4 linked regions of the Homo sapiens genome follow. The protein of the gene in region 3 interacts with the protein of the main gene of each other region in a pairwise test. Each region holds a gene or a part of one and is shown on either strand. Other genes may lie near its edges.

Region 1 (9,284 bases), on a different chromosome or scaffold from region 3:
TTTAGATTCATTCATAGAATTTCACAGATGGAAAGGTAGATAACATTTGGTCTAACCCCTTTTTTCTTTTTTTAAAACAATTTTTATTGATGCATAATAAATATAACTAATTTAGGGTACATGTGATAATTTAATACATTCATATAATTTTTAAAGATCAAATCAGTAAACTTGAGATGTCCATCACCTTAAATATTTCTCTCTTCTTTATTCTAGGAACATTTCAATTATTCTTTTCTGGCTATTTTGAAGCATATGATAGATAATTGCAAACTATAGTCATCTCACAGATCTATCAAACACCAGATCTTTTTCTTCTCTCAAATCATACATTTGTACCCATTAATCAACCTTGCTTCATACCTTCCTCCTCTCTACCTTTCTCAGTCTCTTGTAACCACCAATCTACTCTCTTATCTTCACGAGAGCCACTTTTTTAGCTCCCATATATAAGCGAGAACATGTGATATTTGTCTTTCTGTGCTTGGCTTATTTCACTTAACTGCAACCCCATATTTCTTGGCTGAAGTAACTAAGGTTCAGGAAGTTTAAGTAATTGCCTGAGGTCAAATATCCAGGAAATTTTGGAGTGGGAATCCCAAGCTCAGTGTTTCTTCTGTCATGCCTAAAACCAATTTTAGGTGTCCTAATATTGAGTCAGGAAGGCAGATGTCAAAATCCATGGATCTTGAACTAATCAGATTTTTAAATTTTTAAAAATAAACTCATGTACAGAAATAAATAAGAGTCTTGGAATTAAGAACTTTGCATTCCTGACTCTGAAAGGTAATAACAAACAAACAAACAAAACTAACAATATATTAGCTTTCACTTCATTTCATTTAGCCTATCACCATTCACAATTAAAAGTCTGATGGTTTTGGCTTAGATGACAATTATTATTCTGACTCTATTATTATATTTGATTTTTCTGAATAAAATAATATATATTCATTATAGAAAATCTGGATTACAAAAAAAAATCACAAAGTAGAGGGAAAAATAACTGGTAATCCTCTCCAAGAGACAATTATTATTGATATTTTATTGTGTAGCTTTGTAATATATGAATATATTTTTTACATAATTAGATTCCATATTAATTAGGATGCTTTAGGTTATAAGCACAGAAAACAAGACTCTTGCTAGAATAATTAATAAATAAGAATTATTGGTTCTGCAACTGAAAACATCTAGAGGGGCCAGGTTTCAGATACTTTTTGACGAGGTCTCCAGATTCATTTCTCTGTGGCTCTCAGCTATTCTTCAACCTCAAGCTGATCTTCCCCATGGTAGTGGGATGGTTGCCAAAAGTAATCAAACTATGTATTTCTTTTTTAACAGATACATAGAGAGATTATCCCCTCTCAAACTGCTACACAACAGTCTTGATGTGCATGTGGATTTAGCTAAATGAGAAACAACCACTATAGCCAGGGGAATATGGATGAGCTGATTGACTTAGGCATTATTATACTCAGAAGACTGGCAAAACCCAGCCATGCTGACTCATAGAGCTGAGAATAGGGAAAATTCTACCTAAACCACAGGGCTGCTCCTCAGTGGGGAAGCGCTAGAATGGATGTGAATAAGATGATTGCATCACAAGAGGATCCTACCAAAGATACAGATTCTGAACCTGATTCTCAGCTATCAATATTGTTAATATTTTCTCCATTTATAAAATTTTCTATATCATTATGTTTAAAATATGGAAGGCAGTATATATTTAATATAGCTATATCATAGCATAATTAACTAATATTTTTAAATTATTGGACAACTCATTTTTTTCCAATTATTTGCTCATATAGGCACTACTATGATTCACATCCTTATAATTAATCTTTGCTCAATATATTATCTCCTTAAAGTGGAATCTTAAAGGGGAAATTACTTGGTCAAAAGGTACCTACATTTCTAAGGATTTTGACATATATTGCCAAACTGGCTTTGGAATATACATTAAAGCCAATTTACAACATTGGTTTTTTATCAGTTATGTGAATAGCACTCAGGATTTTGAGTAGTTCCAAACAATCTTCTTAGTTGGAATAAGAACAATTTGGAAAGTAACAAATAAAGTATTTATATCTTAAATGAGTAGACTTTTGCTTTTGTTATGTATAATATCCTAATAATAACCACAGAATTTGGTAGTTTGGGTCCCCAGTGGCCATCATCTCAGAGGAACCTGAGTACTAACTTGAACACATTGTTGAGATTTACTGTTTCCTTGGGCTGAGAAGACAGCATGAGCAAAGCAGGCTCACCAATTGTTCTGGAACTGCCTGGTATGCTGTGGTCATATGAAGCATTGCTTTATTTTATGTTTCTCATGAATCTTATGACCAGGGAAAGCCAAGTAGTCAGTGACCAGGAGAGATAATTTATCCTGGAGCAGCTCAGAAGCCAGTCCAAAGCAAGAATCAAACCTGGAGAAAAGCCCCTGAGCAATGCCACAAGGAGGAAAGTGTGAAAATGTGGGCAATTTTTACTTTTGTGTACTGCTTCCCTGTCTTGGGTTCTAAGGTTAACAAATATGGATATACTCTGAGCTGAGACTGCTCCTTGAAGAACTAAGCCAGAAATCCAAAAGTGGGCTTCATAAGGTCCATTGGAATTGTATACGATGTGTTCATGTGTGAGTGTGTGTGTGTGTGTGTGTGTGTGTGTGTGTTTTATGGGAGAGGCAAGAGTACACAGTCTTCACTTGGCTCCCAAAAGAGCCTGTGACCTCAAAGAAGTTAAAAACCAAAGTTAAGATATATTCCTTATCATCTCATTAAAGTCAAGTCATCTAAGTATCTCTAGATGCAGAACAGGCTCTTGATCAGAACAATGATGTGAATTTTAAGTATTATTTTAAGAAGAAAGTTATAAAAAGCAAATGCTATGATGCAACAAACACTGAATTGTGAATCTGCTGTTAATGAATAAATCCTGGAAGATTCCCATGCATTCAAATATGGCCAAAGCTTTAAAAATTAGGAATAATAGGCCAAAGAAATTTACTGTAGCATCAAAGAGAAAAAAGACGGAGAAAAAGAGATGAAAAAGTACAGAAATATTAGAAAATTTGATGCCAGTACTCTAAAACTTTGATTTCATCTCCAAAAATGGGATTTAGAAAATGGGACTTTATTTTTGCAATCTTGGAGAAGCTTTTATTTTTTAATGTTTTTTTGTTGAGTGGTAGAACTTTGCTTCTATCTCCAAAATAATGTTGGTAAAATTTGTATTTTTTTATCCTCTTATTTCAAATGTTGAGCACATAAAAATCACTTTGCTTTTGTACTTTCATATCAATTTTCCCAAGAACCTCAAATCACTATTCCTGTTAGAAGGGGAGATAAAAGCTTCAGCCTCACCATGAATGTCTAACATTTCATTCATTCATCATTAAATATTTACTGCATACCTAAAAAGGGCCTGCACCATCAGAAGTGTTAATGATACCATGTTGTATGAGAAAAACAAAGTTCCTTCTTTAAAGATCTTGTATTTTAGTAGAGGGAGACAAAGAGTAAATGAATCAATAGTAACAGAGGCTATATAGTATGATGAATGGTGAGAAGGCAAGGGAAGATGAACTACCTTAAATTGTGTGGGAAGGAAAGGCACCGCTGTGGAGGTGATATCTCAGCAGCAAGTTATAGAATTACCAGGAGAAAACCTATGTGAGTGAAGGCTATCCCAAGTAGAGGGCATTGCTGGAGCAAATGCCCAAAGACAAGAAGGATTTTCTTGTTCAAGTGCTTGTCTTGAACAGAAAGAAAACTACATAGGTGTCCCCTGTGGCGTAAAGAAAGAGTGAAATATAAAGAGGTCAAAAAAGGGATCAGATTTTGCAGAACACTTCAGGCCATTATAAAGAGTTTAATTTAATTCAAGGTCTAAAAGGAAAAATTTGGAAAGTTTTGAGCTGGGAAGTAACATTACATGGTTCACATTTCTAAAATGATCACTTTGGGTGCTGCCTGGAAGACTAGAGTGTAAAAGATCAAAACATAGAAACCCTTAGGAGGTGACTACAGCCAACACATTGGTGGCTTTGACCCACGTGGTGACAATAAAAATAGAAAGAAGTAGTCATATTTGAGGGACTTTTGGGAGGTGGAGTCAATAGGACTTGCTAATAAATAACAGTAGTTAAGGGGGAATAATAGAGAGGTGCAACTCAAAGATGACTTGTTGGTTTCTGGTTAGAGTAACCTGGAGAAGGGCATGCCAATTCCCAAGATGGGGCTGAGTGGCAGGCAGTGCAGTATAGAGGCTGAGAGCTTGGGCTCTGGCAACCCACCACCTCAGTTGAACTCCCACCCTTACCACTCACTAGTCATATGACTGTAAGAAAATTACTTAACCTCTCTGTGCCTCAATTTCCCCATCTGAAAATAGGAATAATGATAGCATCACTCTCATAGGCTGCTTGAGAGATTTTTAGCTAATTCATATAAACCACTTCAAAGTGTAACTGGAACAAGATGAATGCACAGATTATTAAATTATTTCCAGTCTGAATGTCTTTTATTTTGTTGTCTTCCCAATTGCTCTGGCTAGAACACACAGTACCACGTTGAGTAGAACTCATTGAAGTGGACATCCTTATCTTGTACCTGATTTTAGGGGAAAGTTTTCAGGCTTTCACCATAATTATGATAAAAGACTGCACATTGGTACAGTGTACACTGCTCAGGTGATGGGTGCTTCAAAATCTCAGAAATCACCACTAAAGAGCTTATCCATGTAACCAAACACCACCTGTTCCCAAAAAACCTATTGAAAAAAATTATGATATGAGCTGCAAGTTTTTCATGGATGCTTTTGAAGAAGTTTCGTTCTATTTCTAGTTTCACAGGTGTTTATATAATTAAAGGGTGTTGAATTTTGTCCATTCGTTTTCTGCATCTAGTGAGATAATCATGTGAGCTTTGTTCTGTATCCTATTAATATGTTGTATCACTTTGTATTTCAGATGTTAAATTAAGCTTGCATTACTGGGATAAATCCCATTTTATCATTGTTCGTAATTTTATATGTTGCTGGATTCAGTTCATTAGTCTTTTCAAGGATTACTGCATCTGTATTCATAAGGGATATTGTTCTGTAGTTTTATTTTCCTGTGATATTTCCTCCTTTTTTGCTATCAGCAGAATATTGACCTCATAAAATGAGTTGGGAAGTGTATTTACACCTCTTCTATTTTGGGGAAGAATTTGTGATGAGTTAATATTAATTCTATTTTAAATTTTGGTAGAAATCACCAGTGAGGACATCTGGACTTGGGCTTTCTTTGTGTAAGGTTTTATGAAATTTATTAATAATTCAATATCTTTACTTATCAGATTTTCTATTTCTTCTTAAGTTCATATGGTAGTCGGTGTCTTTCTATGAATTTATCCATTTCATCTAAGATTATATACATTTTATTTCATGCAGTTTACTATTAAATCTGTTAAGAGGAAAAAGGAGAACAAATCATTTGTCTTTTATAATTACCCACATTATTACCTTTATTGGTGCTATTATTTTTTAGGAATGATTCAACTTAATATCTGGTGTCATTTGTTTTCTTTAATATTTCTTCCTTTACTATTGCTTTCTTTACTGATTTTTGTAAAGTGAATCCAGCAACAAATTATCTTAGATTTTGTTTGTCTTTATTTCATCTTTATTTTAGGAATATAGTTTAGGTAGATGTAAGATTATTGGTTGATAGGAATTTCTTTTTCTTTTACAGCTTTAAATGTCATCTCACTGCCATCCTCCTTTGCTTCTGGTAGAAGTTGGCTGTTAATCTGATCAGGATGCTCTCATACATAATGAATCTTTTCTTTTTTCTCTTGCTGCTTTCAAGGTTTTTTATTTGTGTTTTGCTTTTAATAGTTTTACTGTAATGTGCAAGCATGTAAATCTATTTGCTTGATTCTTCTTAGAGTTTGTTGACCATCATGAATGTGTAGATTAATATTCAACAAACTTCAGAAGTTTGGGGCCACTATTTCTTTGACTGTTTTTCTGCTCCTTTTTCTCTCTCCTTCTGGCCCTCTTATTATGAATATGTTAATGCATTTAACAATGTACCACATTTCTCTGAGGCTCTGTTGATTTTTTTACTTCATTCTATTTTCTCTGTTTTTCATGTTGCATAATATCTTCCAATCTATCTTCAAGTTCAGTGATTCTTTCTTCTGCCAGCTTCTATGAGTACAGCTCTACTGTTGAACCCCTCTAGTGAATTTTTAATTTCATTTATTGTACTTTTCAACTTCAGAATTTTCATCTGGTTCTTTTTTAAAAAATAATTTCTAACTCTTCATTGATATTCTCAATTTTATGAGACATTTTAAATCATATCTATCTTTAATTCTTTGTTCTTTGATTTTCTTTAATTCTTTTAACCTAGTTATAATAGCTGTTTTGAAATATTCAAATTCTAAATACAACACCTGGACTGTTTCTACTTTTTTTTTTTTTTTTTTTACCAGATGTTGTCTGACTTTCCCTGCATGCGCAGCCTCTGTTGCCATTCCTCAGAAGGTGCATCATTGGGTAGATGCAGTCTTTCTTATCCTCTCCCATTTCCAAGGGATAATAATCATTTTAGTAGTGTTCACTTTGACTGTTTCTTTCCACTATCTCACTGTTAAGTGATTGTTCTGCCTGTGTTGGTATCACACCCAGATTTTGGCCTTCTTAATTGTTTGCTGAATTGTTGCTCTATGGTTTTCAATAATACCCTGAGGTATGAATTGACCAACAATCTGATCCAATTAAATTTGTCTGCTTCAGCTACTATAACAACATACCACAGACTGTGTGGCTTAAACAACAAAAATGTATTTTCTCACAGCTCCAGAGGATGGAAGTCCATAATCAAGCTGCTAGCAAATTCACTGGTGAGGGTTCTCTTTCTGGCTAATAGATGCTTGCCTTTTCGTTACTTCCTCGCGTGGTCTTTCCTTAGTGTGTGCACCCAAAAAGAGAGAGAGAGTGAGCTATCTGGAGTCTCTTCTTATAAGAACATTAATTCTGTCAGATCAGGACCCCACTCTTATAACCCCAATTAACCTTAATTACTTCCTTAGAGGCCCTATCTCCAAATACAGCCACACTGGCATTTGTGCTTCAACATATAATTGTGGGGGACATAAACATTCAATCTATAACAGGCTTCTTTATAGGGGTAATATTTGAGGCCAAATTTTGTGGCTAGTGCCAAATCCAAGAGGGCATTTTTTACCTCTTTTTCTGCCTGTCTTTGCTTAACTTCTAGCTGGTCTGCCACTATCTTGTTGCTATCATGAAGCAACAAGCCTACTCTTAATTGTCCACCAGAAGAATCTTCATTGTTTTCAACAGTGTCCCTATGCTTGAAATACCCTATGCTGTCTTACAAATAAAATTCCAGCTTATGTATCATCAGTCTTCTAAGGGAAAGATACATAGCCCTCTATTCTTATGGCCTGCCTCTCCTATGAGTAGTACCTTTACACCACTGCACCAGAGCTGGCAGAAGAGACAGTGACCTACTTCTCCTGGAGCAATACTCTTGCTCCACAAGTGGAGCACTGAATACGGATCGTAGTCCCTAGTCTTTTTTGCTTATGCCTCCTGGAATACATCCTATACACTATGAGTGATCCAGGGCAGGGATATTCAGGACCTTGCTGCTCCTGGGCTAGAGATTATACCCTATGAGAGGAGGCTGGGTAGAGGAAGGAAACCATAGTCCTCTTGGTCCTGTCTACAATGAATAGAATTTCTGCAACCTGAAGCTGGGACAATAAGAGATTCCAACAGCCTTTTGCTCTAGGGGTGAACTATGATCTTTAACTGGAAGCTGGGAGGAGAGGGAGCCCAGTCTTTTGGCTACATCCACTCAGAGTTGAGCTCTCATCATACTGAGCTTGGGAAGAACAGAGGTTAATGGAGCAGATCTTGGCTCAAATGCCATAGACGCTCACTTCTTACTGAGATTTAGATTTTCTTGAATAAATAATTATTAATTTTCTGCATGCCCTTAAGACAACTTCCAGAGATTTTCATTTCTTTTTTATAATTTTTAGCAGTTAAATAGTTGTTGTAAAGGTTCTAGCAGTTTACCTCTACCATCTATTCCTGCCCTTACTTCCTCTGCACTTCTTCAACATATGGCTTGGGGAAAAGAGAAACTTGATCCCTTCCACCTAGCACCAAGAAAAACATTGATTGTTTTTCGTGTTGTAGTTCAACTTTACACGACTTTTTTTTTTCTTTTTCTTTTTTTTTTTTTTTTTTTTGCTACAATGAACCCAAAGCCCAGAGAATCCCACCAATGAAACAGATTTGGAGAGAATGGAGAGGGTAAAAAAATATGGTTCATGGCACCTACTGGGTCCAATATTACTACTTCCTGTGGTAAAATGCCTGTAAAGATTACCTCCAGCAATTCCTGTCATCCAATATGCACATGCAATCAAGAGATAGAATCTATTGCCTCACCCATGGAATCTGAGACTTGGGACTTGCTTTAACCCATAAATTGTGATAAAAATGATACTGTGCCAGTTCTGGGCTTAAGCTATCTGAGAATGGTCAGCTTCCACTATTGCTCTCTTGCTACTCTGGACTGTCACATAAGGAATTCCAGGCTAACCAGATAAAGTGAGACATCATACAGGGAGAGAAGCCATGGGAAGAAGAATTAAGACCCCCGCCCCAGGCAAAAGCCAACACAAAGATCTCAGTCATGTGAGTGAAGCCATCTTAAACCTTCTAGCCTAGCCCAGATACCAGCAGAATGCAGCCTTCTATTCCAACTAATTCACATGGAATGCTGCCCAAATCCTGACCCAGAGAATCGTAATAAAATAGTTGTTGTTTAAGCCACTACATCTTGGGGTAGTTTGTTGCACAGCCATAGATAAATGGAACACTCCATTTGTGGAATTAGATAATAAAGTTTTCTTCAGAGTAAGTTTCTTAACAGCCAGTAACCATTTAAATAGAAAGCTGATAATAGAAAGTAGAAAGAAAAAGAGGTAGAAGGAGAAAAGAGGAGGAATATCAGGGGATAAAGTTATCCACAACTAATAGAGACAGAACAAAATAAATGAGATAGATTGGTAGAGGTGGGGGAAGAAGTGAGTAAGTGAGGGAATTCAGGGACATGTGACCTAAGGAGGAGATAGATTAAGGATTCAGGAGCCCACATGGTGCATGTATGGGTACAGGAGATGTAGACGGAGAAGGGGAACACTAAATTAACAAGAAGGGGGCCTGGGTCCACAGCCCAGTTC
Region 2 (7,286 bases), on a different chromosome or scaffold from region 3:
GGAAGCCACAGTGCTGATCCCTGGCCCACCCTCCCCTGGGAGACCAGACTGACCCTGGGTCATTGGTTGGCTAAAGCCTGGGGCCTCAAGTTTGGTATGTGGGGCTCGCTCACTGCCAACGGGTTCTCCTTGAGGATCCCTTTCTTCCTTTCATCTGCTCAGGCCTAACACCCCATACACTGTGTGCGGATAGGGAGGTGACCCCTTTAGCGTCTCAGCAGCACACTCCTGCCTGGACCACCCTCTCCCAGGAAGGTCAGACCCCAGCGGAACCTTTGCCCTGCTTGGGTGGAAGCATGAACAACTAGTACAGCTCAGCAAGGGACTCCCAGTATTGCTGGCCCTTGGGTGTCCCTGGCATTGGGTAGATGACCCCTCATGCCAGGGACTGGCCTCAAGGCTGTTCCTCTCTACTCCAGAGCCTCTGGGCAGTGGGTTGTGGATTTCCTAAGAGCTGACCATTGCTGCGTCAGAGGCTTGCAGCACTGGGTTACTCAACAAGGCCCTGCAGCCTGGTTTGCTATGAAGGAGAAGATGGGGTCTCTCGTCCCTAGCCCCAGTGCACTTAAATGTGCTAGTCCCAGAGGTTGGGAGTCCTGAGTCAGCCTGTGAGGACAGGGCAAGGACAGTAACTGCCTCGGGTCCTGGGAATGTCTGTGGGGAAGAAGAGGCTCTGCTACCCTTGAGATCTGCTGGGTCCTGGTCCCTAAGTGTACCTCTCCACCCATCTCACCCTGAGTCAGGCCCAGGAAAGGGGTATCTTTGGTGTTTCCTGGGCTTCTGAACACCACATTCATCACTACCATTCTCCTCAGTGCTGGCCCAACCCCAAGAGCTGGAGAACAGGCTGGCCCCGGCCACTCTATCTCACTTTCCCTGGCATAAAGGCTTTGACCTTGGGCAACATACCCAGGGCAACCCAGCACCTCGGCAGGCTGGTGATCAATCTTCTCAACTTACAGATCCTGCTGACCATGCCTGCAACCAGGCCTCCCATCTGCTATCTCCCTCAGTGCACACTGTCCTAGGGAGTTGGGTGAATATCTATTATAGTGTGTCCATGTCACAGTTCAGAATCCTGAGGTCCCAGAGCAATTCAAATGCTTCTGGCTCCTTTCAGTGGAAAGCTGCAGCCAGCCTAAATCATCTCCCTGTGCTGGGCCCAGGAAGAGATGACCCTTTAGTATACCATGTTGTTTGAGTAGCCAAGACCTCTGGGAGTAAAGGCCCCTGGCCATATAAGCAATATAGGGGAAGGCGTCCTGAGCTCCTCTTGGGGCCTCTCTGCTACTGGGTGCTCTGCAAGCTGGGTCCCTGTGCCCTGGATCTCTAGAAATGTTTCTCAAATTGGGGCTGCTGAACAGAGGGCAGCCCAGCCAAGTGAGGGCAGGAAGTGGGCAAGAAAGCAGGAAGGGTCTCACAGGGCCACCAGGGAGGGCAGTGCAGGGCAGGTGGCCCATGACAGGTGGGATGCTGGCTTGCCTGCCTGCCACCATCCTCTGTTCCTTCTGGAAGCCATGCCCTGCCATGAGCCATGGCCTTGGTGCTGAGACTGTCCATTCCACCTCCCATTCTCCTCCTCCCTCTGACTGTCACCTTGAGAAGCATCCACCCTGGGGCTTAGGGCAGCTGTGTCTGTGACATGTGGAGCCCTCCTCCTCCTCAGAGGCCCAGGCCAGCCTCCAAGTGCTGAGATAGCCAGCTGCCTGTGGGCACCCAGGTTGCTAAGGTATCTTCCAGGTTCAGCCTCCTCCTCTCCCTCTTATCCTATCACCCTCTCCTTCTATTCCATCCTGCCCACTGGGTCCCTGTGCCAAGCCCTCCACCTCCCTCCTGCCTCCCTCCGAGTCCCTGCATGACTCATACTTTCCCTGGGCCCTCCCTATAAAGTTTGGTTCCACAGGCTCTTTGAAGAGATCCAGCCTCTTCAGCTCTGGGCAGGCAAGAACTAGGCAACCAGGCCATGGGTACCAGGGCCTCTGCCCCCAGCCCGGGAGCCCCTGTGTTGGGGCCAGGATACTATCTGAACATGCTGACAGTCTGGACTTTGGAAGGGGAAAATGGTGCTTCCCTGTGTGGGCTTCTGTGTTTGAGCTGAGGAAACTGAGGCCAGAGAGATGCCGTAATTTATCCAGGGACCCAGAAGGGGCTCATAGCTGAGCTGAAGAGTGTCCCACATCCTCCCCAGTACTCCACACTGGTCCCTGAGTGGCAGCCTTGCTAGGATGGCAGGAATCAGCTGACCACTTATTCCTGGGCCATCAGACCCTTAGAATAGGGACCAGGTGGGCAGTGCTGCCTCTGTGTCTGAAAGTGGACCCACCGTGACCAGTGCCCAGTGCCCACCAAGGCTCAGCCAGGGGTTTCACCAGGGCATGGGGCACTGGCTGAGCATACCACGCCCTCTGTGTCCTCTGCAACACTAGAGCCCTGAGACTAGAGGGGCAGAAAGATGCCAGCTGTCAAAAGCCAGTGATATCCACCAGAACACACTGACCGCCCCCACCCTGTGCCTCTCCTTCTTTGCAGAAGCTACCTGTGCCCTGGGTTCTCTGGGCAGGGAAGGGCTGGACAGGCAGCCCTCAGGGGACAGCCCTGCCTGCCACTTGGGCAGCTGTCAGAGCATGCAGATGTGCCCGATGCCTAGCTGGGGCACTTGGCACAGTTGCCACTGCACCCTGCCTAGGGGTCCCAGCAGCCTCTGGGCGGTGGGTGGAGTGGGGTGCACGGTCACACAGGCTGAGAGGGCCCCCAGGACGCCCCCATCCCACAGTTCCCACTCCAGTCTGCTGTCTTCTCCCAGCTTTTTCCCAGCGCCCCGCCTCCCCCGACCTTACCTAGGGACGCAGCCAGGAAGAGAGCGAAGAGCAGGGATCCCCAGCGCCAGCTGCCGGCCTCCAGGGCCGTGGGGACGCCCATGTCGCCGTCGGACGCGCAGAGGAACTTCTGGTGCCGGGGAGCGGGCGGGACGCGGCCGGCGCGGGGAAGCCTCCCGCGACTGAGTGCGAGCGAGTGAGCGCTGCGGGCGGCCCCAGCGCCGTGCTCCAGGCACCCGCCCCCTTCGCGCAGCGCCCCCGGGGGGCCGTGTGGGGGAACTGCCTCTCCGAGGGCCGCGTGGGAGGGGCTTCCCGGAGGCCGGCCCCGTGGGTGGGGAGCCAGCGTGCGTCCCAGCGAGTCAGCTCCACTTGATCGGCAGTTTAAAGCCCGTTCTACCGTCCCCCAGTCCTTTTGGAGAGAAATTATTATTGCTGCGCAGCCTAAGAAGTAGATCTACCTCTAACAGCGTGATAGACGTTACCATGGCTTGCATCTGCCCTCAGCCACCAGCCTTTGAGTGATCTGGGGACAGAGACTTGTACCCTACATCCTCCAGCCAGACCAGGGCTTGGTATGTGGTAGGCACTCCCAGCTGTGGAATGAGTGAGTAAATGAGTGAATGAATGAAATCTGACATTGTGAAGAGCTAGGCAAGCTGGAGCCAGTTTAACTGTAGATTCAGAGCCTGAGGCACCCTGAGTGCATGCGCGCGCGCACACACACACACACACACACACACACACACACACACAGAACAGGTGCAGGACTACACGCCAAGATCAGCACATCCCTACCCCGGGACACACACAGATATGCAGGCAACACCTGTTGGCGTGCCCCACAGCACATCCTGCAAGCTCCCCTCCGGCAGAGGCCTCAGCTGTCCGCCTGGCTGTGCACCCGCCCTCCCTCCCTGGTGCCTGGATATCTGCAGGACACTCTGATGCACCCTAACTTCTAGTGCCTCTGCTCTTGCACCCACACCCAGCACTGCTGGCACCACTGGAATGTCTCTCCCCTCCTAATTCTTCTCATCCCTCAGGGCTCAGCTCAAGTCCTCCCACTTCACGAAATGTCCTGACCCTTCCTTTTTCCCGGCAAATCCTTACTGTCCACACCCCCTTCAGCTACCACCTCCAGCCTGAGATAACCAGCAGTTGGTTCTTCTTCCGGCTGTTCTGCCCTCCAGAGCGAAACTACAAACCTCTCTCTGATGTTTCTGAGACCCTAGCACAAAGCTGGGCGTGGAGAAGGTTTTACTGCACTTTTATCTGAATGGACAAACCAATGAGTGAGTGAGTGATTGTGTGATGGAGGAGCAGAGGTGATCGTGGCCAGGACCAGGGATCACAGGAGTGGAAGAGCACAGCCATTTTACTCAGTTTACCCCAGTCTAGCTGAAGCTTCCAGGGGTTTTTCTGGCACTTTAGGGATCTTGGGTTAATAGGTGACTCCTAGGCTGAGAGGCAGAGGACACTCAGAGTCTGACTGGGTCAGGAACCAGGGTATCAGGACTCAATGGGAGCCAGGAGTCCTGGGGGCCTTGTGGGTGGCCTGATCCAAGTCACGGGCTCTCTGGAGGCCCTTAGCCCTTGCTCTAAGGGCAGGGAAGGCTACAACAGAGGAAGGCTGAGGCATCATGTTATTACTAAGTGAACTTGTGCAGGCCCAGTCCCCCTGGAGCCAGTGAACTCCCCAGGATGGGAGCCCCAGAGGCTGGCAGGACATAACCCAGGTCCTTGGGCATGCTCCTGGCCTTGTGACCCCACCTTGGAAGGCAGCCCAGGGCCCTTCCTGCTGGCATAGCATGAGCTCCCTTCCACCAGGGGAGGTACAAAGCCAACTGAGATCAGGTGGACACCGGGCCCTTCTCACCCTGACATCCTCTGGCAAGTGAGGGGGGTCCCTTAAGGGCAAGATCCTAGAGCACCACCCCATCTCAACCCTTCCTGGACTGGCTTTGCTCAGGACACCCTTGAAACCAGACTCCCTCTTCCCCAGGGCCTAGCAGCCGGGGAGGGCCTGGAATTAGAGAAAGGGGAGCAATTGCCCTGCCAACCCCTTCCCCAGGGGGATAGAGCCTCTGAGCTGGGCCCAGTTCCCTCCCCCCTTTTCACTTCCTTTCTCCCTACCACACTGCCCACCACTGAGCCTCCTGGGGTTGCATCAGGGTGAGACACAGGCATTGCCCAAGGACCATGGTCCAGAAACCTCAAGCACTGTTTCCTCAACACCAGGGCAGGACAGGAAGGGCTCAGCTGAGAGGGCCTTTGGAGCACTGACTTTCTCCTCCCTCCGAGACCAGAGGAAGTCAAACCCACCTTCCCTCCCCAAGCCCAGACCTGGTCTCAGAGCAGGAGGGGCTCCAAGGCCCAACTCTGTTCAAACTCTCCACTCCCAGCCCCTGCAGCCTGCACACTCCATCATGTGTTTGTGCTTGTTTTCATTAAAAATAGTGGTGAAGGCCCCAAATATTCGAATAAAGATGACTGTCAAGGAAAGCCACCATGTCCATCTTGTGGCTCTGCAGGGCCTGGAGGCAGCTGTGAGTACTCTCTACTGGTGAGGGGCCCAGCCTTGAGCCTTCCTGAGTCCCCTTACTTGCCGGCAAGAATACAAGAGCACCACATTGCAGGAAAGGGGCTGAATTCCAGCCTCCCTGTTGGGGAGGGGATGCTGACATTTCCCACATTCCCAAACTCACCTCCCAAACTCCCTGAGCTAGAAACAACTTTAGAAATCAAGCCAGGTCCTTTATTAAACAGACAGAAAAGGTCCAGAGAGGGGATGTGACCTGCCCAAGGCCACGCAGCTCCTTTTCAAGGCTGCCAACCCTATCTGCTTTGGAAACCGTTTCAGCAAACACCCAATGCCCTCCACCCCCAAGATCCAGAGCTGCATATCAGAGGAATCATTGCCTCCTCAGGGGCAGTGACAGCCTTCTTGGGTCCAGATCCCCTGCCCATCTGTCCATTCTTCCAGTGGTAGCTCCAGAGCCAGCCAGTCCCAAGGAAAAAACCATATGCAAATTGCCTACATTGAGTTGTCTGTACCACCTGCTTTCTGTTCTCTGGCCTGGCAATGGCCTAGTCACGTTCTCTCTACCCAGACACCTTTGCAGTGATTAACACCTTATTATTTTATATTAGTCACTCATTATGATTTGTATTAGTTAGGGTCCTGGCAGGAAACAGATGGCACACTCAGAAAGGGTTCAACTGAAGAGAGTTTAATACAGGGACTGTTTAGGAAGGCTGGTAAAGCACCCAGAGACTAGCACCAACCACAGGAAGCCACTACCACTCACATGTCCAAAGGGAAAGAAGAGGAAGTGATGTTCTGGAGCCCAGTGAAAGCTGGTGCTATGAAAGGGGGACCCCTGTCCCCAAGCAGGAGAAACACAGCCATGGGCAGAACCGCAGTGAGGAATGGAGGGAGTGTGGAAGAAACACCCCCGCCTCTTTCTCCCCACTGCTTTCATCTTCAGCCAGGGCCTCCCATTGGCCACACCCAGCAGGAAGCTGGATAGCAAGGGAGCCAGGGTAAGGCAGTTAGTCCACAGGGGACATCTTCCCAGGTGGAGAAAGGCAGGAAGCAGGAGCAAGAACCATTTCTAGTTGATTCTTGAGTGCTGATTGCCGAGTTCTGATTAGCTGAATATTACTTGTGGTCCAATTGACTCAAGCATTGGCAGAGATGGCCGATCACAGGAGAGTATGTTGTAGAAGCTGTTCTTGGAATGAAGTTATGTTCTGTGAGTCTTATTTTTCACAGGTCAACAAGTTCTGCCCACGAAATTGCCACAAACCCAATGTCCTCCTTCTGGAAATGCTGAAAATATGTATTTCTTTCATTTACATGAACAATAGATGAAGGTTAAATATGGCATTGGGCCGAGTGCCTCACATTCTTGCCTCTTGTAGTCTGGCAGGACATATAGGCTCAATAAGACACAGGCCCTCGTAAAGCTCTGAGCTGGGGTGACTACCAGGGTTCATCCCATATGCCAGTCTTAATCACTAGACCACTGTGCTAACAAGGATCCCAAGTTTGCATCTGGCCTCAGCAGTTCTGTGATTGATTAGTGATGTCTGCTGGGGGTCGCAGACATAGGAGTGGTGGTGCCAGTGCCATCTTGGACAGAGCAGTTACCTTACTTGGCTTTTGGTGGAGTTTTTGAGCTTTCTCTCTCTACCAGCCTGTGACCCACCCCCTGCTTTCTTCTCCTTGCCCTTTCTGTTTGAGTCACATGGAGTGAGTTCAGCCCAGGAGAACAGCCATCTGGATCCACCTTGGTCCCTCTGGCCACCTGACCAAGGACGTGACCCACTCTTTTCCACAGGCCACCACGCACGTGTACGTGACCATTGTGGATGAGAATGATAACGCGCCCATGTTCCAGCAGCCCCACTATGAGGTGCTGCTGGATGAGGGCCCAGACACGCTCAACACCAGCCTCATCACCATCC
Region 3 (6,277 bases):
CGTCTGTTAATATATAAACCTTATAGGATTGCCGTGAAAATTAAATGGGATACTACATATACAGTAGTATTACAAATTAATATAAATAAAGTGTCTGGGACATATAACACTCAACAAATGCCAGCTCTCTGCATAATCTACCAGGCAAAGGCAATGGCATAGATGGTATTAAGCGTAGTGCATCCAGACCACCACCAGGTGGCTCTGTACTTCTAAAGTACAAAAGAAGAGTGTGTGGGAAGAATGGATAGCAGCGGACAGGTATGGCAGGAGTTGCGAGAGGTGGTAATGGAGAGAGTATTCGATCTACATCATTGAGATCTTTGTATGCCCCTTTGAAAGGGTGGGCTTCACCCTTAAGGAAAGGGGAGTCACCAAGAGTTGGAAGAACCTGTGGTAGAGGATAGAGGAAAGGTTGGAGGGAGGCAAGATTGGATTTGGAAGGCGGGTTAAAGGATGATTTCCATTGTCCAGGGGTTGGATGATAATAGCTAATGCTAAGATGGCACTTAGTCTCTAGCCCTCTATGTAGATTAATTCATGGCCTAAACTAAGGCAAGGGCTGTGGGAATTGTGAGGAAATCAGTGAATTTGCAGTTATCAGGGGACACACAAGCGCCTTCCCCTTTTCTGTATTTAGAGCACAGAGGGGTGGAGAAGTGGCTGGAAATACTCTGCTGAGGCCCTCCAAATCAAGGGACATTTCTCAGGTCCTCCCCACCTGCTCTGGGGATAGCCTGGCTGCAGTTCTGCAGCTCCCCAAAGGACAGTCCTGAGGCAGGTCTGAGCGTGTGCTGCATAATGGAGAGTTTCACAATCTCAGCAAATGAGCAGCCTAGAAGCATTCACCCCTGACTCGTGTCGGCAGTAGGCTGAGACTGAAGGAGTCTCACTGAAACCAGGATGGGTAGGGATTACATCCAACCTTATGGCAATGATAAAGGGGAAATGCCCATAGTGAGCCTATCTTGAGTCGGCACCCCCAGGTTTCTTCGTTAGTTCTTTTCTCTGTAAAGTGAGAGTTGCACAATGTAATCAGCTAACTAAAAGTGCATTGGGTGTCGCCCGTGCTACACACTGGTACTGAGTCCTGTCATCCAGAAGCTTGAAATCCTGTTCCTGGCCATGCCCTTACCTGCTTCTGCCCCTCCCTTTTCAAAACAACTGATCATTCATATCTTATTGAATTTAGCACTTACAGATCCTAGTCTGACTTAGGATGGAATTGAGGAGAGAACCAGAAAGTTATAGTACCCATTTTTTAAAATAAGCATTGACAGTAGTTTATGGAATGGTGCCCACAGATAGGGTTCCATGGGCTCTACAAAATTGTAGGGGAAATAATAGCGGACAAGAAGACTCTTTGGCATTCTTCTATTCAAACCATGGAAGTGGATATTGATTTCACTCAAGTATTTAACTTCTCAGAGAACTATCCAAAAGGTAAAAGTCAATAATACCATAGTATAAACCCTTTAGTTTATGTTTTGCTAAAACTATTGAATTAAACAGTGAAGCATCGTTTGCCCTTAAAAATGGACTGAGAATGAAGTGATGCTCCACTTTTTTTTTCTTTTTTTGTGAGACAGGGTCTCTGTCACCAGGGAGTGAAGTGGTGCAATCACAGCTCACTGCAGCCTCGACCTCCTGGGCTCAATAATCCTCCCGCCTCAGCTTGCCAAGCACCTGGGACTGCAGGGACACACCACCATGCTCAGCTAATTTTTGTATTTTTTGTAGTGACAGGGTTTCACCATGTTTCCCAGGCTGGTCTAGAACTCCTGAGCTCAAGCGATCCTCCCACCACAGCCTCCCAAAGTGCTGGGATTGCAGGCATGAGCCACTGCACCCAGCTGATACTCCATTTTTGGATGTATGGACACTGTTGTAAAAAATCAGAGCTTTTCCAGCAATAGAAAATTATTTAGACCACAAGCATATCTAAACAACAAGTGGTTATGGACACAGTTTTCAAAATAAACATATAAAAGAGATCTAGGATTAACCTGAAATATAAAATTCCAAAGCCAGTATTGTGTCTGTCTTTCACAGGTATTCAGAACGGTTCTATAATTCTGAAGCAGGGTAGGTTCTTTTAAAGCAGAGCCTTGTTACTTGTTAACAATAATAATACACATTTAAACAGTTAATCTAGAATTATTTACCCCATAGCCAACCTTAAGTAACATACTAAAATGTCATTTGTGACTGGTAATTATTGGTTATAATTATTTGTTAACTTGAGTTAGACACCCAGGAAGTCTGCTGAACTTTTTACCTATCAGTACCCGTTTCAAAGTCACTGATGAGTGTTTCTTCTGTTTCAGATCTTTGGCATGATATTCAGCATGGTCCTCTGCTGTGCGATACGAAACTCACGAGATGTGATATGAAGCTACTTCTACATGAAAATTGCAATCTAAAGCTTTCATACCAAATGTCACAGGAGCTGTCTCCCAGCTCATTTTTAACACTGAAATGACATTAGGATCTAAAATAATTTGCTGTCAATTGTACATTTGCATGAGTACGTATGTTTGGCTCATTACTGGTTTACCCCTTGAGTGAATGCCTGTTTATGATGACTGAGAGCATATTCATGTGTGATCTGCGTGTTTCTGGAATATGCTTTATACGTAATGAAATCTGTTTGCTGGGAATTCCTGATTCTTGTTATATAAGAAGAACAACCTATTTCGCTCCCAGAAAAAAAAGATCAAAGAGCTTTCAGAAACTTTGAGAACTTGGCTATTTAGAAAAAGTGATAATGGGTCAGTTTCTCAGACTGTAGCCATTGAAAATTAGATGCAGAGAATTCAGAGATTTCTTCTTAATGGAAGTAATAAGCTGTAAGAATTGAGAGATCACAATGGAGTGTTAAAACTGACTGTGTCTAAGTTGGGTGTAAGGGTTTCCTGGGTTTTTTTATATACATGCTCTCCCCAGAATACAGTAAACCACAGTTTTAGAACTAAACACATCTGTAAAACTAAATATAGCATGGAAAATCCAATTTGAATAAGTCATGCTTTCCTAGAATTTAAAAATAAAAAAGTCTTCCTCTGGAAAGAGAAGTCACACAGACAATCATGTGCCCTATAAAAGTGAGTGTTTATAGGACTAAAAAACTTTTAACAACTTTTTAAGGAAATATTTTTGTTCTTATACAAAAACATGTAAATATTGCTTTATTACTTTCATTTTCTGACCCTGCTGTAAACTACTGCAACCCTCACATCCTCAAAGGGACTTTTATGTCAAACTCTTCTGTTTCTCCAAATATAAGGAAAAAAGACTAAAGCAAGAGATCTGGCAGTTGAAAATTGTGGGAAAGAGAATTTGTATGGGCACTGTATCTATGAAATACCTCATAACTTACGTTTACATGTTTTCCTAACTTTTTGTATTTTTCTTGTATAGCCACCTAGAGAATTCTTCATAGATTAAGAACTACAGTTTTCACCACTTAACATAAGTAAAACAAAGTCCTTCATAATTTAACCATTAGCATCTTTGGCCAAACCAAAATAAAGAAAAGCATCTTCTCCTAGTTGTGTGTGGGCAACAGAAACAAGTTAAGGAAACAAAAATACTTATATATACACAGAACAAAAATAATGTTCTTTTTATGCAAATCCCCTGTGAAAATAAAATTTTCAATGTTTTTTTGGTCTTAACGCTTCATTTTAACTTAGTAAACCCAAATTTAGGATTTACATTGGCAAATTTTTCAGTGATTTTTAACGTGTTACATTTAGTAAACCATAGATTTTTTAAAAACTACATTTTGTAAGGCCACACATAAGTGAAAATACGGAAGGCTTTGGAAACCCCCAGATGAACTTCTATACATGTGAAAACACAAGTCTTTGAGTGTGCACTAAAAGTGTCACACTCCCAAAAAACTCACAAAACATTTTGCTAAAAAGATATGACTGCTTGAAATAGTCTCTCTCCCATGGAGAACCACATTTCTCTTTCTGCCATACTTGCTACTGCTACTGATTTTGGAGGAAATTTTTCTAGAAGAACAAAGGTCATATTTGAGGCAAGCTAAAAACTTAATTATACATGGCTACTTTACTGTGTCTGTAGCTAAAGAAAAATTATTTTACAAAAATTACTTCATGAAATATAGTTTGTACCCCAGTAGTTGAGAAATGTGACCTTTTAGGCAAAGAACAGGCAGTCCATCTCTCTTAGCTTTAGTTTATCTCTCTGCCTGAAGACAGGAAACAGGCCCAAGTGCATACTCGGGTTCTTTCCAACTCAGAATCATCTCTGATTCCACAAAAGTGAGTTTAGTTTCCTATCTGAATTAACAACTTTAAAGGAGACTATAATAGTTAAAAGTGGAAGAATAGAAATAAATAAATTTAAAATGAAATTAATTAAAGTAGAAGAGAAGGGTTCTGTTCCATGTACGATTAATGTGCCCCTTTTGGAGATAAGCTTTCCAAAATATGCGTATGAGTAAAATTAGAGAATTCCACCACTAAGCAACAATAGATTTTATATGTGTGTGTGGATATATATACACACACACACAGAAAGATGAATATATATATATATATATCTGTATAGACACACATATAATATATATAGATATATAATCCCTATATATCTTGAATCTACAAATATCTTTATATGTATATAATTTGAATATATACATGTATGTATATACAGATGTGTGTGTATATATATATATACATACACATATACATAAATTTTCAGCTATTTCTGTTCCCCTGAACTAATTTGAGATTAGACCCAAACATGCTTTTAAATGTCTCATGCCAAGGCACTGAATTAAGACTTCTTAATGTTGAAATATTTTAAGTGATTTCATATTAAATTTTCTATATACTGAAATTGCTTGTTTGATTTATCTTAAAGTCCTATTATATCTTTCTACAAACCTTCACGCAACTTATCTAAATGTCAAACTACCAATCAAATAATGTGATTAAAAAAAAACAGAGTGGTAACCCTTCTATAATTTGCTATTGGTAGTTGACTTAAAAGCAACACCCTAAGGACTCTTACTGCATATACAGTCATCTGTCAGTATTCATAGAAGAATGGTTCCAGGACCCCCTGTGGATACCAAAATCCACAGATGTCCAAGTCCCTTGTATAAAATTGTGTAGTATTTGCATGTAGCCTATGCATATCCTCTCATATACTTTATTTTTTTAATTTTTATTTTTTTATTGTTACATAATAGTTGTACATACTTTTGGGATATATGGGATATTTTGATATTAGCATACAATGTGTAATAACCACATCAGGGTAATTGGGATATCTATTACCTGAAACATTTATCATTTCTTTGTATTGGGAACATTCCAGATCTTCTAGGCCTTTTAAAACATATAATAAATTGTTGTTAACTATAGTCACCTTATTGTGCTACCAAATATTAGAACTTATTCATTTTATCTAACTGTATTTTTGTACCCAGTAATCAATCCCTCTTCATCCCTCCCTGCCTGCTACCCTTTCCAGCCTCTGGTAACCACCATTGTATTTACTACCTCCATGAGATCAATTTTTATAGCTCCCACATATGACTGAGAACATGATTCATCTTGATGATATTTGTCTTTCTGTGCCTGGCTTATATCACTTAATATCCTCCAATTCTATGATGTTGCTGCAATTGACAGGATTTTATTCATTATTCAGCCATTGTCATGGCTGAATAATATTTCATCGTGTATATATAGCACATTTTCTTTATCCATCTGTTGATGGACTCTTGGGTTAATTCTGTATCTTGGCTATTGTGAATAGTGCTGCAATAAATATGAACATGCAGACATCTCTTTGATATACTGATTTTCTTTCTTTTGGATATATACCCAGCAGTAGGATTGCTGAGTCATATGGTAGTTTTCTGAGGAACCTCCAAACTGTTTTGCATAGTGGCTGTTGATTGTTTCCTTTGTTGTGCAGAAACTTTTTAGCTTGATGTAATCCTATTTGTCAATTTTTACTTTGGTTGTCTGTGCTTTTGAGGTTTTACCCCAAAAATATTTGCCCACACCAGTTTCCTGAAGCATTTTCCCAGTGTTTTCTTCTAGTAGTTTCATAGTTTCAGGTCTTATATTTAAGTCTTTAATACATTTGAATTTTGTGTAGGGTGAGAAATAGGGGTCTGGTCTCATTCTTCTGCATGTAGATAACCAGTTTTCTCAGCACTATTTGTTGAAGAGACTGTTCTTTCCCCAGTGTAAGTTCTTGGTGCCTTTGTCAAAAGTGAGTTAGCTGT
Region 4 (7,721 bases), on a different chromosome or scaffold from region 3:
GGTAAAATGAGAAAAATGTGTTAATAATTTAATGCAATCTTAAATGTTTAATTGCAGTATCAAATTAAAAGCACACTGAACTCAACATGGGGTTTTGTGTACACAGTTAACAAGGTGACTGATAGTAGTAATGGGCTGCCATTCTATGATGTGGATATGCTCACGAGTTTTGTCTTCATAAAACGCAATACGGTCATTGTGAAGTTAAGACAGGTAAGACACATCTGTTTCTTTGAAAATGTTTAAAACATTTAACATATTCAATTCTGAAAGATCTTTTTAATCTACTCTGCTGAGAAATCTGAATTTTTCATACACAAACAACCTAAATTACTATTTACCTTTATTAAAATAATTATAAAATGAATAAAATGTTAAAATTCTAGAACTCAAGGCAACCCCCTTTGGGTCCCTCCTTGAATGGGAGCTCTGTTTTCACTTTATTTCACTGTCTTAAATCTTGCAACTGCACTCTTCTGGTCCATGTTTGTTAAGGCTCGAGCTGAGCTTTTGCTCGCCGTCCACCACTGCTGTTTGCCACCGTCACAGACCCGCTGCTGACTCCCATCCCTCTGAATCTGGCAGGGTGTCCGCTGTGCTCCTGATCCAGTGAGGCGCCCATTGCCGCTCCTGATCAGGCTAAAGGCTTGCCATTGTTCCTGCACGGCTAAGTGCCTGGGTTCGTCCTAATTGAGCTGAACACTAGTCACTGGGTTCCACGGTTCTTTTCTGTGACCCATGACTTCTAATAGAGCTGTAACACTCACTGCATGGCCCAAGATTCCATTCCTTGGAATCCGTGAGGCCAACAACCCCAGGTCAGAGAACACGGGGCTTGCCACCATCTTGGAAGTGGCCTGCCGCCATTTTGGAAGTCGCCCACCACCTTCTTGGGAGCTCTGGGAGCAAGGACCCCCGGTAACACTTTGGCGACCACGAAGGGACCTCCAAGGTGAATTGAAACTGTAAAACTACAAATGGTTCATCAAATGGAGCCCCAGATGCAGTCCATGACTAAGATCCACCGTAGACCCCCGGACCGGTCTCCCAGCCCATGCTCTGGTGTTAATGACATCGAAGGCACCCCTCCCAAGGAAATCTCAGCTGCACAACCCCTCCTATGCCCCAGTTCAGCAGGAAGCAGTTAGAGCAGTCATCGGCCAACCTCCCCAATAGCACTTGGGTTTTCCTGTTGAGAGTGGGGACTGAGAGGACTAGCTGGATTTCCTAGGCCGACTAAGAATCCCTAAGCCTAGCTGGGAAGGTAACTACATCCATCTTTAAACATGGGGCTTGCAACTTAGCTCACACCCAACCAATCAGAGAGCTCACTAAAATGCTAATTAGGCAAAAACAGGAGGTAAAGAAATAGCCAATCATCTATTGCCTGAGAGCACAGCGGGAGGGACAAGGATCAGGATATAAATCCAGGCATTCCAGCCAGCAATGGCAACCCCCTTTGGGTCGCCTCCTTGTATGGGAGCTCTGTTTTCACTCTATTTCACTCTATTAAATCTTGCACCTGCAAAAAAAAAAAAAAAAAAAAATTCTAGAACTCAAAATGTAGTCACAGCACTCAATGCCACATATATGCATATGAAGGCATAAGGCAATCATGCAGATATATGAAATACTTGTACACTGTATTGTATGTAGAATGATTATAAATTTATTTTTAATTATGTAAATACAAGTTTTAGAATGAATCATCTTCCTATTCATGTGGCATTATCTGTCATTTTTTAAAAACAAGTTTAAAAGCACTTTGTATGATAATGGGACAAAAAAATTAGAATTACAAAGTTTAGATTATAGGGTGACTTCTTAATATGGATACAAAAAATTGAGACAGGTTCCAAACCAAAATAAAGAATATTGAGTTACTTAGTTTACTTCAACGGAGCAGGTTTTTTTGAGGGAAGGCGATGAAAGAGTAAATGATTAAGCATGTGAAAAAGTATTAGAAAATTGAGCATAGAAATGAAGAAATATTGGGAGGAAGGAAAAGATAGTACAGATTCTTGTTTTATAAGGTGTCAAATTATGTGCTAGCCATATGTATTATTTACTAATCTCATGGTTGTGTTACCCCTATGTATACTTTTGTTTGTTTTTGTATGTACTCATCTGAAAGCCCTCTATTTTTAAATAGAATTTTTGATAGTGTAAAGAAGTTAAAGGATGAACAATGGTTTGGAAAGAGCAAGTTTCAGAAGGTAGAAAAAACTTTACTTGTTTGGAACTCAATTATTTTGAACAGAGCTATTTACTGTCTGACCATACTTTCCTATATATGCAGTGTAGTAGTCCATTTTCACACTGCTATAAAGAACTGCCCCAGACTGGGTAATTTGTAAAGGAAAGAGGTTAAATTGACTCATGGTTCCCCATGGCTGGGGAGGCCTCAGGAAGCTTACAATCATGGTGGAAGGCGGGGAAGCAAGGACTTTCTTCACAAGGTGGCGGGTGGGAGAATGAATGCAAGAGGAACTACCAAACACTTATAAAACCATCAGATTGCATGAGAACAGCACGGGGAAAACCACCCCCATGATTCAGTTACCTCCACCTGGTCTCTCCATTGACATGTGGGGATTATGGAAATTATGGGGATTATAATTTCAAGATGAGATTTGGGTGTGGACACAAAGCCTGACCATACCATGCAGTATGCAAAATCTATGTTCCGATAGACATGTGCCCTTTCTTTGGTACCAACGTGATCTTCTACAGCATCTCTTACATACTATTCTCAAGTCATATGATATCATAACTTGACCATGACACAAAATTGCCATGGCACTGTATATCCTCCTTTGTTTGGCACATTTATCAAAATTTGACAGCATACCAATTTGTAATGATCATTCATCATTAGTGACAAGAATGATGGGAAATGAGGTGACATAAGGAAAGAGATAACTAGAGAAAGGGAACGAAAACTAAGAAATTTCATGGCATCAATTTAAAACTATCAAGACAAAAGCTTGGGGTGGCAGACATCTTATAAAGGTTTACAAGAGGGAAGAGGAGTTGCACATTTACAATAATGTCTGAAGGAATACAAAAGCCAGGCAGTACAGTCTTTATGCTTGCTATAAGAGGCAAAAAGTCTTTGGTTTGGTCAAATATTTTTAAACATTCCCCACTGGAAAATACCCAAGGCTAGAAGCTTACACCAAAAAGTTTAGAGACTGTGTTGCGTTCTTTGTGGAACAGAGATATACAACTATCTTCCTGCACATATACCAAAGGAAGACTCTTCAGTTCTAGGATTTTTATATCGTCTTCATAATGTTATAAAAATGTATAAACAAGTGAAATGCTAATTCCTGGGTCCTTAATGGATATTTTCAAAATATGAGGCACTTTAACTTTTAAACTATAAAAAAACTGGATATTAACATGCTGGTAAGGTTAAAGTTGGGAAAAGCTTGCAGTTTTTGACATACTATACATGTCCTCCTACATCCTGAAAGGGGAAAAAATGCCCACTGGGACCCAGAGGTCTGTTTCATGGTGCTACAATTCTTGTTTACAGAATAAAGCAGTAGGAAACACAGTCATACCATTCCTGCAAGTTAAGTTTGCAAAACAGCCTCACATTTATTATACCAAAATCAATGTATTGGGGAGATCAAAATATCTTCTCATAGGGGAAAAATAGCAAATACAACTTGGAGAAAAGTGACTTTGTTTTATACATAAAGTACAGTAAATAGCTAAAAAAAAAAAGTAGAAATACAAATATGCTATAGTTCATCGTGTTGGTATACATTGTATTCCTTGGGAGAAATGAAGCCATCACCATCATGGTCATTCTTCTTAAAAATATCTTCTAAAACTGCATCCTGATATGACTTGTCACGTGGCTTCTCATCTTTTTCAAATTCCCTTTGCAAGTAGAGGTTTATCTGGAAGGCCAAAATAACATTCCTTTAATTAAAAGGTATCACAGTGAATTTCCAGTAACTTTAAGGAATAGTTATAATAATGAAACTCATGTGCAAGATTACTTACAGTAAATGATACAACAGTATGAAAAGCTATTTGAGGTTTTATTTTTCTTATTCTTTGAAGCAATGTTTTGGAGAGAAACAGGTCTTCAAATTAGTTTTCCCTAAGATGATAGATGGTTAGTGGTACATACTCGAAGATTAATATTTAAACTGAATTTTGTTGAAACTAAATGCTTTCTAATAATCCATGCTGTTCCTATTATCAAAGGAAAATCACGCATGACTGCCATTAGTGAAAGAAACCCAATTGGCATTTCTATAATCTCTAAAACTAATGAATATGTTGTATAATCAATAAAACACAACCATGGGGTTTGAAATAAAATTTAGTATTTTAAGTTTTTCTATGCTTCTATAGCTCTCCTCCAAGTCTACATAACTATAATAATCTCTTTAATAATGTCAAATAAAGAATCCTGAAGTATTCACTAATTATATAAAATTTCTATATGCAAACACACATTAAAAGTATTGTCCAATATAGTAGCCACTAGCCACATGTGACTAATGAGCACTTGAAACATGGCTAGATCAAAATGAGATATGTTACTATAAATATAAAATATATAACAGATTTTGAAGACTTCAAAAAGTTATCTCATTGATAATTTTACATCGATCTCATATTGAAATGGCAATATTATAGATATATTGAGTGAAGATATAACATTAAAATTAATTTCACCTGTATCTTTTTACTTTTTAAGATGTGACTATAAAAATTTTAAAATTATATGTGTAACAATTGTATTTCCTTTGGAAAGCACTAATCCTTATAATAACTAAAGAAAGCAATGCACAATCATCTGGAGGTAATGTTCAGTAAGGCTGGCATTATAGAGGCAAGAGTATTTTTGAAAGCTAGAGTTTGAGAGGTTTTTAGCAATACATATCCCAGGGTCAACCCATTGCAAGTTGACTTTATTTTAGAGCAATCAGTGGACCTTAATGAAGGATACATCAACTGTTCTCAAATGGGACTTTGGTCCTACATGAGGCAGACACATTTTTTTCTTCCAGCCAAAGCTTAGCAATCCTATGTAGGGGTAAACAATTTTTAATACCTTCAAATATTTCTCAGTTTCTAAGTAAGTCAAATTATTTTTACATAACCAATATTGCTGATGCTTAAACTTGACTCCTTTTCCAGTAAACTACAGTACAGAGGTACAAAAAGACAGTGGGTAAGAACATGACCTTAATTTTGCTAGTAATGGGTTCCACACTATTTCCACTTTTTAATTTAATAAAATACTGTATTTCCCCCGTCCTTTCCGTCTTTATTAATATTAAAGAAAGTTTTTCTTTTTCTTTTTTAAATGTTCCTTCCTGTACACTGATGAAATAGTTTACTTAATCTTTCTGACAATGAATAAAGTTTTTTGTTTGTTTGTTTTTGTTTTTGTTTTTTTAGTTCGTGTTTCTACTTCAGGCTTTGTCTTGGATTTGCTGTGTGGTCTTCTGCAAATTAACCTCTCTGAACCTCAGTTTTGTCATCTGTAAAAGGAGATAAGTAAGTATCTATATTGTAGGATTGATATGAGGATTAGAATAATGATTATGGCCATCAATAAAAGACAGCTATTGTTATTCAAGTTAGTGAAAATCACTCTCATCCATCTGGCAATAAAGCAGCTGATATCACATAGACATCTGGGGAAATTGTAGATAAGTAGATTACTATTTTGGATTTTCTCTATTTTTATTTTCCAGAAAAGAACTTAAGATCATCTAATGTCTTACTGAGGAGTATTCATACTGCAGAACGTGGCTCTTGGTGTGCCTGTGATAATGAGTGGTCTGTGTGCATAGGCTGAGCTCTTGGGTACTATGCGAATTCATCTGCAGCTGCTATTCACTCTAAAAAAGGGTGATAAGGAGTCAATAGAGAAGTACACTTTGGGAACCATTTGCCACCCCGGTAACTGCCCTTCTTCTTAAGAACAGGACATGTTCCCTTCTCCTTCTTCCACTGTTGGCCAACCAAGATGCCTGAAGGGAAAGTCATTACTAATATCCTGGTGTAAGAAGTTGAACTGGGTGGGGAAAGGATTGGAGAGGGAGATGAAAAAGAAACAGAGAAAAAGACTTATTTTTATTACTTGAAATCAACCTAGTTAGCTTTTACTACTTACTTATGTGGTAGAGTTACACATTTTTAAATGTCTCCTAACTAGTTAAGAGGGGAGACAGCTGGTTTACTAATTTTAAGCAGGAGTATCGTCAGTGGGACTAAGTAAGACATTAGAATTCAATAAATAGTATTAGACTTGAAACATTCATGATTTTCTCTGAAAGAAGCAGTCTAGGCCCAAAGTTAAAAATATAGTAGTGGGCTGGGCATGATGGTTCACACCTGTAATCCCAGCACTTTGGGAGGCTGAAGAAGGAGAATCACTTGAGGCCAGGAGTTCAAGACTAGCCTGGGCAATGTAGTGAGACTCCATCTCTTAAAAAAAAAAAAAAAATTAGCTGGGTATGGTGGCATGCTGCGGGGATCGCTTGAGCCCAGGGGTTTAAGGGTGCAGTGAGCTATGATCACTTCACTGCACCCTGGCATGGGCAACAGAGAAAGACCCTGTCTCTAAGAAAAATTTAAAAAATTGAAATGTAAGAACAGTCATGAAGCCAGATTGCCCAGGTTTTGCCCCTTACTACTGTGTGATTTTTGGCTGATTAACCTGATTATTATTTTCCCCATCTAAAAGCGAAGATGATGACAATAGTGTCTGCCCCATAAACTATCATGAAGATTACATAAGTTCACATACTTATGTGCTTATAAATAGTACCTGGTACTAAAAGTATAAAATAAATGTTATCTATTATTATCTTTTTTTTTTTTTTGGAGGCAAGGTCTCAGTCTATCTTCCAGGCTGGAGTGCAGTGGCATGATCACAGCTCACTGCAGCCCCAACCTCCTGGGCTCAAGCGATCCTCCTACCTCTCAGCCTCCTGAGTAGCTGGGACCACAGGTATGCACCACCATGCCTGGCTAATTTATTAAATCTTTTGTAGAGACGGGGGTCTCCCTGTGTTGCCCAGGCTGGTCTTGAACTCCTGGGCTCAAGCAATCCTCCCACCTCGGCCTCTCAAAGTGTTGAGATTATAGGCATGAGCCACATGCCCAGCCCAATTATCATTATTATTACAAGATCTTTATTACAAGGCTGAGATACAGACGCTAGCTGGCTGAACTTCTGGCTCCTGTTTACCAACTTTCTAGCCCACTCAATTCAGACCCTTGCTAGCTCTTTTCATCATCCTATGAGGCGTGAATTATTTGCCCTGTTGCAAATTCTTACAGTGCTGTCTGAAAAAGAGATATGCTAGTGTAATCTAGAAACTGGAAGAGCACTGTAGAGACAAATAATTCGGGATTTTAATGACTCTCTTGCAGGGAGAAAGGCAATTGAACAGGATGACTCACAAGGTTTATACTGAAAAAGCTTAGAGCTTTTTCTAAGCGCTTAGATTATTTTTTAGTGACCAGCTCTATAAAAGCAGTGATCAGAGCCCATGCTAGCTAGACCTAAAAAGTAATAGTTGTAACACAGATGTATTTAAACTGTGATAAAAAAATTAGACTATACACATGAAATTGGTTTGAATTACCTCGGCTTTAGAGAGCTGCCTGTCATTGTCCATGTCTATTTGTTTAAATGTCTCAATGCTCCGTGGTCCTTTGGTCACAGCATAAAG

The links.
Region 1: the proteins of TSPAN2 (region 3) and SLC30A8 interact in binary tests that used the Homo sapiens proteins (3 or more experiments, as listed by UniProt).
Region 2: the proteins of TSPAN2 (region 3) and VSIR interact in binary tests that used the Homo sapiens proteins (3 or more experiments, as listed by UniProt).
Region 4: the proteins of TSPAN2 (region 3) and FKBP7 interact in binary tests that used the Homo sapiens proteins (3 or more experiments, as listed by UniProt).

Annotation. Positions count from the first base shown.
Region 1 is NC_000008.11:117,137,062-117,146,345, reverse strand, and holds part of SLC30A8 (proton-coupled zinc antiporter SLC30A8), read right to left. Parts: intron 1-9,284. UniProt on the Homo sapiens protein: Proton-coupled zinc ion antiporter mediating the entry of zinc into the lumen of pancreatic beta cell secretory granules, thereby regulating insulin secretion.
Region 2 is NC_000010.11:71,770,521-71,777,806, forward strand, and holds the start of VSIR (V-type immunoglobulin domain-containing suppressor of T-cell activation precursor), read right to left. Parts: upstream 3,001-7,286; 5' UTR 2,920-3,000; coding exon 2,838-2,919; intron 1-2,837. Other genes in the region: CDH23 (cadherin-23 isoform 1 precursor), read left to right, coding at 7,160-7,286.
Region 3 is NC_000001.11:115,046,606-115,052,882, reverse strand, and holds the end of TSPAN2 (tetraspanin-2), read left to right. Parts: intron 1-2,327; coding exon 2,328-2,393; 3' UTR 2,394-4,872; downstream 4,873-6,277. UniProt on the Homo sapiens protein: May play a role in signalling in oligodendrocytes in the early stages of their terminal differentiation into myelin-forming glia and may also function in stabilizing the mature sheath.
Region 4 is NC_000002.12:178,462,018-178,469,738, forward strand, and holds the end of FKBP7 (peptidyl-prolyl cis-trans isomerase FKBP7 isoform a precursor), read right to left. Parts: coding exon 7,635-7,721; intron 3,915-7,634; coding exon 3,753-3,914; 3' UTR 1,647-3,752; downstream 1-1,646. UniProt on the Homo sapiens protein: PPIases accelerate the folding of proteins during protein synthesis.